Homo sapiens: one gene and its partner. The protein of the gene in region 2 purifies or fractionates together with the protein of the main gene of each other region. This does not show direct contact. Each region holds a gene or a part of one and is shown on either strand. Other genes may lie near its edges.

What was found.
Region 1: the proteins of RAI1 (region 2) and ACAD11 purify together in Homo sapiens (affinity purification with mass spectrometry, with the first as the bait; one large-scale study listed by BioGRID). This does not show direct contact.

The regions. Positions count from the first base shown.
Region 1 is NC_000003.12:132,648,610-132,654,054, forward strand, and holds part of ACAD11 (acyl-CoA dehydrogenase family member 11), read right to left. Parts: intron 1-5,445. UniProt on the Homo sapiens protein: Acyl-CoA dehydrogenase, that exhibits maximal activity towards saturated C22-CoA.
Region 2 is NC_000017.11:17,798,746-17,803,527, reverse strand, and holds part of RAI1 (retinoic acid-induced protein 1), read right to left. Parts: intron 1-4,782. UniProt on the Homo sapiens protein: Transcriptional regulator of the circadian clock components: CLOCK, BMAL1, BMAL2, PER1/3, CRY1/2, NR1D1/2 and RORA/C. Positively regulates the transcriptional activity of CLOCK a core component of the circadian clock.

The DNA of each region.
Region 1 (5,445 bases), on a different chromosome or scaffold from region 2:
GCCACTTATCCCTTGTGCAGAGATTTGAAAATATTTAGGATTTGCTGCTTTTTAATTTTACTCCTTTTCCTTTGGTGGAAATCATGACTAGTGGAATCATGACTATTCTGACCAAGTGCGTTTAATAAAACCACTGAACAGACTCAGACCTTCACTAACTATCTACTCTGACAACCAGTTTGGTTTGTGTAGGGAAAAGAGAGATCAGACTGTTACTGTGTCTATGTAGAAAGGGAAGACAAAAGAAACTCCATTTTGACCTGTACCCTGAACAATTGCTTTGCCTTGAGATGCTGTTAATCTGTAACTTTGCCCCAATCTTGAGCTCACAGAAACATGTGTTGTATGGAATCAAGGTTTAAGGGATCTAGGGCTGTGCAAGATGTGCCTTGTTAACAAAATGTTTACAGGCAGGCAGTATGCTTGGTAAAAGTCATCACCATTCTCCAGTCTCGATAAACCAGGGGCACAATGCACTGCGGAAAGCCGCAGGGACCTCTGCCCTGGAAAGCCAGGTATTGTCCAAGGTTTCTCCCCATGTGATAGTCTGAAATATGGCCCCGTGAGATGGGAAAGACCTGACCGTCCCCCAGCCCGACACCCGTAGGGGGTCTGTGCTGAGGAGGATTAGTAAAAGAGGAAAGCCTCTTGCAGTGGAGATACAGGAAGGCCACTGTCTCCTGCCTGCCCCTGGGAACTGAATGTCTCGGTATAAAACCCAATTGTACATTTGTTTAATTCTGGGATAGGAGAAAAGCCACCCTGTGGTGGGAGGTGAGACATGTTGGCAGCAATGCTGCTCTGTTACTCTTTACTCTACTGAGATGTTTGGGTGGAGAAAAGCATAAATCTGGCCTACGTGCACATCTAGGCATAGTACCTTCCCTTGAACTTATTTGTGACACAGATTCCTTTGCTCACATGTTTTCTTGCTGACCTTCTCCCCACTATCACCCTGCTGTCCTGCCACATTGCTCTTGCTGAGACAGTGAAAACAGTAATTAATAAATACTGAGGGAACTCAGAGACTGGTGCTGGTGAAGGTCCTCCGTATGCTGAGCGCCGGTCCCCTGGGCCCACTTTTCTTTCTATATACTTTGTCTCTGTGTCTTATTTCTTTTCTCAGTCTCTTGTCCAGACTGACTAGAAATACCCACAGGTGTGGAGGGGCTGGCCCCCTTCAGGTTTGCTCATTAAGGTTTACAAAATTGAGTGAGCAATGATGAAGGATAACAACCAGCCCGGCAAATTTGAACTCACGGGCATTCCTCCTAAACCCTTTGGATTTCCACAAATTTAAATAACTTTTTATATTGATGCCAACAGCATCTCAAATGTGTTTGCTGTTGATAAGAGATCAGGAAAAAAGAAGATTAAAAGACAAATGACCCAGTGTTTGCCCATGGAAACACTGAGTATTTGGTCCAAGAGGCATAGAAGTACAAAGCTGGAAAACGAGAAACAAAGAGACAGAGTTTCTTGTAAGAAGTTGCTCAGATCCTATGTATTCAATAGGCCACAGTGAAAAATGAGAGACGGCAAAGCAGAATCAAAGATGAAGTCAAACACAAGACTCCTGACAAGTGCAATGGAGTCATCAATGACTGGTCAAGAATCTCATTACTGAGAAGGAAGAATTTAACATCAGCCAAAAGAGCTGGAGAGGGTAAAAACCCTGCCGTTATCACAGTGTAACAGAGCTAGCACCATGCTAGGTGCTTTGCTAGGGACTTCCCTAGAAGTGGTTGCCCATCCTCTAGAGGTGTGTCTTCTGGAACCATGACTACAGAAACAGAATAAGGCAACCAAAACTCAACATGAAGTTTGAACATGAACACACAGTCATGAAATCCTACTCTGATTTGTAGGAAGTCAGTTTAGTGACAGTTTTTTTAAAAAATCATACTTGGGCTGCTATTTCATATATTATTAGACATTTTGAATATCTGAATATACACAGGGTAAGGAAATACAGTTGCACTTTATCCACATGATAAATAGGTAGAAAGTACAATTCATGATAGAGGACAAAGGCTTTTAAAGTTGGCATCACTAAAAAAATAAGAAAAACAGTGAGTCCAGACTACTTAACTTAGTGTAAGACTGTCCCTCCCCAGCCCCAATACATACCTACAACTTCCCATTTCCTATCACTGACAGCACTACTACCTTGAGACCACCGGAACTGGTTTCATTGTGTTCTTTATCCCTCTTTATATCATCAATACCAGAAGTCCCAAATTCCCCTTTTATACTTGTTTACTGCATTGTAATTCCCATAAGGCTCTGCACATTCCCTATTTTCTCCCACATCTTCTCCACCCCCTCAACTCCTGATATCCTTCCACTGTGCCCCTGGAACTCACAGTCTTTCACAATTCCATACAGCTTCAATATCTTCTCTGAATAGACCCTTCACCTCCTTGCTCTAACTAAAACCTGAATATTCCATGAGGATCCTGTTTCCTTTGTAGGCTTCTTAAGTGGTAGATGTTTTTCCCACATCAGTCTTCTAGTAAGCCTGGATGGAGTCTGTATCCTTCCTGAAACTCATTGCTACTTCCAGACTCTTTGCTCTCCCTCCTGTGTAAATTCTTCCCTCAGCTTTGAATCTCAGGCCATGAGACTCTGCCACCCTCTACCCCTTTTTCTTGCAGTCACCTACTAACTCTCAGATCATTTCTCCTCATTTCTTAAGGATCTTGGCATAATTCACTATTACTCTCATTAACACTACTCCTGTCTTAATTACTGATTTCAAAATCTACACAGATGTCCCTTTTAACATTTAGGCCCATCAGTTCCTTGAATTTTCTCCACCAGTGATATTTTCCTTGACACTATCTCAGCCAGTAATTCTAGGAGTTACACCCTACACTTTAGCAATATCAACAGTAAAAGCACTGAATAATCCTAGTTTCTAAACATTTCTACCTCTAACCTCCTACCTTTCCACTCACTCCTGCTAGTGCCTCAATTCCAACAATCCTTCAATCAATACTTGACCTACCATCCATTGATCATACTGCCATTCACCTCATATCCCCCGACCATATCCTTTGCCCAAGACTGTGGGAGCCCACCTCTTGCATCACTGTGACCTGGATGTGAACATGGAGTCAAAGGATATCATTTTAGAACTTTAAGACTGTCCCACTGGATTTTGGACTTGCATGGGGCCTGTAGCCCCTTTTATTTTGGACAATTTCTCTCATTTGGAACAGGTATATTTACCTAATGCCTGTACCCCCATTGTATCTAGGAAGTAACTAGCTTGCTTTTGATTTTACAGGCTCATAGGCAGAAGGGACTTACCTTGTCTCAGATGAGACTTTGGACGGTGGACTTTTGAGTTAATGCTGAAATAAGACTTTGGGGGACTGTCAGAAGGCATGATTCATTTTAAAATATGAGGACATGACGTTTGGGAAGGGTCAGGGGTGGAATGATATGGTTTGGCTGTGTCCCCACCCAAATCTTATCTTGAATTGTAGCTCCCATAATTCCCAATTCCCATGTATCATGGGTGAGACCTGGTAGGAGGTAATTGAATAATGGCAGTGGGTCTTTCCTGTGCTGTTCTCATGATGGTGAATAAGTCTCATGAGATCTGATGGTTTTATAATGGAGAGTTCCCCTGTACACATTCTCTCTTGCCTGACTTCATGTAAGACATCCCTTTGCTTTTCCTTTGTCTTCTGCCATGATTGTGAGGACTCCCCAGCCATGTGGAACTGTGAGTCCATTAAACCTCTTTCCTTTATAAATTACCCAGTCTCGGGTATGTCTTTATTAGCAATATGAGAACAGACTAATAAATCTTTCCTTAACTAGGTTAAATTTGATAGCAAATCATATAACCACTACCTTGAATACACCTTCAGTATACTTCACTTGCCCTTTCCTCACTTCATGGTGTTTGCTTGGCAAAACTCCCATCCATGTTAAATCCATTTTTTTTTTGCTTACACTGATATAACTGGCCATAGCTGAAGAAAGACACATACAGTCATAATTACTGTTTTAGGTTAGGTTCCCAATAAACAGATCATGAGAAAAAAAATTATATACAAGTGACTTATTAAGGAAATGTTTGGGGAACTAATAAGAAATTTGGGGAAGCAGGTCAAGAAAGGGGAGAAAGCTAAGCAAAGGTGTGATCTAAGACAAAGTCCCTTAGAGGGTAGCTTCAGCCTGATCTCACCAGTGTGTAGGTGGGGGTAAAGGTAATGGGGGAACTCTGCCGTGTCAAAGTTCAAAACATGTCTCTGAAGCAAGGATAATGAAAATTTCATACTTCTGAATCACTATTGGTTAAGGTCCACCTCAGGTACTACAACAGTAAGAGCAAAGGGTGCTCCAATAGCCTGAGGGCAGTTTACCAAAAAAAGAGGCATAGATGCTGTTTATTGGAAGCAAAAACCAACAAAGGCAGGACATGTACAGCAACACTAGAAAGGGATCCAAGAGGATCTGGACAAAGCATTAGTAATATCTACTGAAATATCTATTCTTGCTTCAAATTCATGACCTCAGCAAACCTCAAAGTGAACCACATCTGGCAATCATATTTCCTTAGCTCATTTATTCTCCCATTCTCTTGGATGGCTGTTTCATAATTCTCTCTCCTCAAACCTCAAACACTTTCTTCTCCATCTTCATTCTCAGCTAATTAATTACCTAGGTTCCTATTTCAACGAGCAAATAGGAGCAATCAGATGAGAACTTCCACAAGCTTACACTACTGTATCTACTGCATACAATAATCTGTACACATATATTCTGTCTTCCCTCCAAAGTCTGCAGAAGGACGTGCACATTTCTATCTAAGGGCAACCCCTTCTCTTGCATATTAGAGTCCTGCCTTCTTAAGGACTTCTTTCCAGGCCTCTCTCCTACACAAAATTTTCTCTTCTAGATTACTGTCATCAGCATACAAATATGATGTTATTTTTTAAAAAGCTTTCTCTTGACCTCACTTCCCCCCTACTTAAAACATTTCTATTTCCTTTCGTAGAAAAACTCCTCAAGAGATTACACGTCCTCCTCCTATCTTCTTAAACCCATTTCAATCAAGCTTTCATTCCCTTCTTTCCATTAATACTACTTTTTCAAGATCACTAATACAAACCATGGTTTTCCCCCACCTCTTTGGCCACTTCTTCTAAGACTCCTTTGTAGGTTTCTCTTAATTTGCTAACTTCTTAATATTGGGGTGCCTTGGACTCAGTCTCCAAACCTCCTTTTTATGTGAACTATTTTCTAAGTAAGACCTTCGATCTTATGTCTTTAAATATCTTCTTTTTGTCGATGGCTCTCAAATTTATATGTCTAGTCCAGATCTCTGCCCCGACCTCAAGACATAACCAACTGCTTACTATACATATCTACTTGGATGTCTAAAAGGCATCTTGAAACTTAACACTCCAAAACTGAGTTCCTCAA
Region 2 (4,782 bases):
CTACTCAGGAAGGTGAGGTGGGAGGATTGCTGCAGCCTGGGAGGTTGAGGCTGCAGTGAGCCGAGATGACGCCACTGCCTGTACTCCAGCCTGGGCAAGAGTGAGACCCTGCCTCAAAAAACAAACAAACAAACAAACAAAAAAAACACAAAAAACCTGTACAGGCTGGCTGGCCCCCTGTGGTCCCTGCCTCCCTTCTCCAAAATGGTGCTTGAAAATCTACCAGAAGGAGGTTCAGCACTGGGGTACACATGCCCACAAACATGGGTCATTTAGCACCCTCTGGGCTGGTACATTGGGTAGGGAGACCCCCTTGGGCCAGTGATGCCAGTTACTACCATGGCTGTGGCTACCAGCCAGCATCTGCTGCATGCTTCTGGTGTGCTGGGCGTGGTGTGTGTCCTTGCCCACTGGCTTGCTTTTTTTTTTTTTTTTTTTTTTTGAGACAGAATTTCACTCTGTCCCCCCGGGGCTGGAGTGCAATGGTGTGATCTCCGCTCACGGCAACCGCTGCCTCCTGTGTTCAAGTGATTCTCCTGCCTTAGCCTCCCGAGTAGCTGGGATTACAGGCATGTGCTGCCATGCCCAGCTAATTTTTGTATTTTTAGTAGAGACGGAGTTTCACTGTGTCGGCCAGGCTGGTCTCGAACTCCCGACCTCAGGTGATCTGCCTGCCTAGGCCTCCCAAAGTGCTGGGATTACAGGTGTAAGACATAGCGCCTGGCCTACTGGCTCTTTTTTCTTTTGCTTTTGAGATGGAGTCTTGCTCTGTTGCCCAGGCTAGAGAGCAGTGGCACAATCTTGGCTCACTGCAAGCTCCGCCTCCCGGGTTCACGCCATTCTCCTGCCTCAGCCTCCCCAGTAGCTGGGACTACAGGTGCCCGCCACCACGCCAGGCTAATTTTTTGTATTTTTAGTAGAGACGGGGTTTCTCCGTGTTAGCCAGGATGGTCTCGATCTCCTGACCTCGTGATCCGCCCACCTCAGCCTCCCAAAGTGCTGGGATTACAGGCGTGAGCCACCGCGCCTGGCCGCCTACTGGCTCTAACAGCCCTCTGTGGGTCCCTTTCATTAATCTCACTTTACAGATGGTGAAACTGAGGCTCCCATTCCAGGCAACAGTGAAGGCATTCAGCATGGTTTTCTACCCTTTCTGGCAGCAGGAGCACTTTGAAGCTAGGCTGGGACTGTTCTACCTAGGATGAGACCTGCACCCTCCAGGGGACCAGCTCTCAGACCTGTGAGAGGAGGCGGTGACGTGGTAATCCCTTGAGATGGCTGACTTCATGTAAATCTGATGCCGTCCTCCTCTAAGTCTCAAAACTGTCCTCTGCTGAGCTTGGGGGCTGCCCCACACCTGGACCAGCTGCTTGGAGTGGACGTGGCCAGGACAGGACAGTCACACCAAGAAGGCCCTTGGAAGAGTGAAGCAAACCTGAGGCCGGGGAGGGAGAAGTCACCAGGCGCCAGAGCCACAGTGCCACCGTGCTGGGGGCGGGGGGTGAGGTAGAGAAGGCAGCAGAGAGGGCGGCGGCCTCTGCCCAAGTGCGAAGCCAGTGAAACAAACGACAATAGCTTCCTATGTGCCAGGCATGGCTGGAAGCCTCATGCCCACAGCAACCTTATGATGGGATTACTGTTATTTTACCTGGGTTACCAATGAGAGCTGAGGCTGAGTAACCTGCCCGAGGGCTCCAGGCTGGTCTCTGACCCCTGCAGCTGCCTCCAGGCTGGAGTAGGGGCCCACAGGACCCCACATGCTCAGGGTGGGCGCACCATCCCAACCACAGCAGCTGAGAAATGTCAGAACACTCCCCTCCCCGCTGCCCATGCTGGGAGTGGGGCCTGGGGTTTATTCTAGAATTTCAGGTTTTCAGCTCAGGGCTGAGGCCTCCTTCCCGCCTAGTCTGGGATGGCCTCCTGGAGATCTGGAGTCCAGCGTCCCCAGTTCCTGACCCAAAAGGGATGACGAAACACAAGCCGGCTGCTGTCTGTGAGTGGCCCTTGGTGTCTGGATGTTTAAGCATATGGGGGTCCTCTGGCTGAAGGCTTCTCTCCACTTACTGCACGGAGGCCCCAACCACCCTCAGGCAGGCATATGAATAGCATTTTAGATGTGAAGAAACTAAGATGCAGAGAGAGTGAGGCCTCAGGCCCTTCTGACCCCAGCTACCCAAGAGGAGGGCAGGGGTGGCGGCATGTAAACCCTGCCACAGGTGGGGCCTCTGCAGACACCACCTAGCCCCCTAACAATGCCCGGAGCCCGCTATGGGTCCCTCTCACCCCAAGCATTCCATGGCCAGGCTCCATCTGGATAGGAGGTAGGGGTCTATGATGGCTTTGGGGGAAGGGCAGGCAGGGCTCAGAGATAGCAGGCGAGGGCAGTTCCCAGAAAAGGCCATCGAGGAAAAAAGGTATCCCTGAGAGCTGGCTCAGAGGTTCTGCCCTCCAGAGCGCAAAAGTGAGGTCAAGGTACCGAGGGGTGTGGCAGTGCTGGGGCCAGGGACACAGCTGCACCCCAAGCCCCTTCCACATGCCAGGCAGGTCCCACATGATCCACAGAACCCCACAATCCTGCTAACGGGGTTTGACATTGTGGAGTTCTCAGAGCATGCGTGACTCGCCTGGAGCTATGGAACCAGCCCTCGGCAGAGCTGGGATTTGAACCAGGGTCTCACTCCAAGGAGCATGGCGCCCCCAAGCCACTGAGGCAGGAAGGGGTGGTGAGCCAAAAGTGACCCTGGGAAGCCCCAGACTCTGCCCATTCTCCCAGGATGTCCCATCTGTCTGGCAGGGTGTTCCTGGTTCCGACCTTCCCGGGGCAGCCCTAGTTGCGCAGGCTGTCAGGCCATTTCTGGAGCATGGCACAGCAGACAGGCATGGGCTGGGCTGGCAAGTTCCAGCCCCCGCGTGGTGTAGGGAAGCTAGCGCCTCTCCAACACACACTGTCTCCTCAGTCCAGCAGGACCTTGTGTGTGCATGGGCGGTTAAGACACCCATGGGCCAGGGACAGGATGGGGTGGTCGGTGCTCGGGGCTGACCCCTCCTCCCTTCGGCCGGCCAGTGCTGGCTGCAGGGGATGTGGAGACGACCTGATCTCAGCCTGGTGGGACGTGAGTGTCGGGGAGCCCCTGGTGAGGCTGCGGGACCGAGGATGCCGTGGGGACAAGGCTTTCAGGAATGGGGCTGTGAAGCAGGGGAGGTGGCAGCCAGCTGGGGCTGGTGATCTGAGGGTTATTATTTTTTGATGACGGGAGAGACTTGAACCTGTTTCAAGGCGCTGGGAAGGAGCCAGTAATGAGAGAGAGAGAGAGAGAGAGAGAGAGAGAGAGAGAGAGAGAGAGAGACAGAGAGAGACAGAAAGCAGGAGAGAGGCAAAAAATCACTAACTGGGAAGGGGAGAGGGAAGAGGCCCAAGGCCACCATCTGCTGGGTAAGCAAGGCCCGCGGCACCAGGAACCTGCAGGAGTCCTGTCGGGGCCAGCCTTCCTCTGAGGTGGAGGGTGGAGTGAGGTGGGCAGGGCGTCTGGGCGTGGAGAAGGTCTCCAGCCATCCCCATGGGCAGTGGGAAGCAGGTGCCCAAGACACACACTAGGAGGCGTGGGTGGCAAACACAGTGGGCCCCCACCGGGACCTTGGTTTGGCCAGGCAATGCCACGGCAACTGTCAGGAGCAGGGGCTGCTCAGAGGGGCTGCAGGGGTGTACTGCGAGGAGCAGGTGGGCAGTGCAGCGACGGGGGAGGAGGCTGGGCAGGGGGAGGGGCGAAGCCACCGGCTGGGGCCACTGTGCTGGGTCACTGAATCACTCAGATGCAGGCAGTGTTTGTCCAGGGCCTCTGGAGACCCCTGCCAAGCCCCTCTGGCTCCCCTGTGACCTCAGCCGCACATAGTGGGTTGAAGGAAGGAGTGGAGGGGATGGGACTCAGGGCAGGGGCCAGAGAAGGCTGCAGGCGTCCCCACTGAGAGCCACCACACAGCGCTGAGAGCCGGGAGCGTCACTCCACGGAAGTCTGGATGAGGCAGTGGAGTCGGGGTTGAATGTGGGGGCAGAAGCATGGCCCCGGGGGAGAGGTGCACCCCACCGCCCCCACTGACCCCTCCCTCAGAAGGGCACAGAGGTACTCTATGGTACTGGGGAAGTGGTGACACCACGAAGAACGTCACCCTGCTGTCACCAGAGCCACCAGGCCCCTCTGCACTGACTATCACAGGGCTGCTGTGCTCGGTGGGCTCAGAGGTGCCCACCTTTTAACCCTCCCGACCCCTCCTCCATGGGCACCCTCATACCCACGTTAGGGGCGAGGGGACGGAGGCACAGAGAGGGCAGGTCACAGCCCCAAAGGTGCATGGCGGCACAGCCCCAGAGTTCCCTCTCTCATGTTGGTGCTCAGTGACTATGGCTTCCAAAGCTGGTCTCAGAGCCAATGGTGAGAGGGTCTGGATCTGCCCCGCCCTGCCTGTTGTGACTGTGTGACCCCATGGACTGTCCTGCAGAGGGAGGAACCCTGTGACTGGGTCCATGCACCAAGCCTGTGTCGCCAGAGAGGGTCTTCCTGAGCCCTTAGCTTCATCCCAGAGGCAATGGAGACAGGAACAGAGGGTGGGCAACTTGCTCTTGCACCGCCCGGGGCAGCCCTGATGTTCAATCTTGGGAGTCCTCGTGTTCTCTGGGCCTTGGCATCTCCGGTGACAGCATGGGGAGGGGCCCAGTGGATTCTGGGTGGGGCTGGAGCCTGAAGATGCCAGGTGAGTGGGAGAGTGGCGGTGGCTGGGCATACGGGC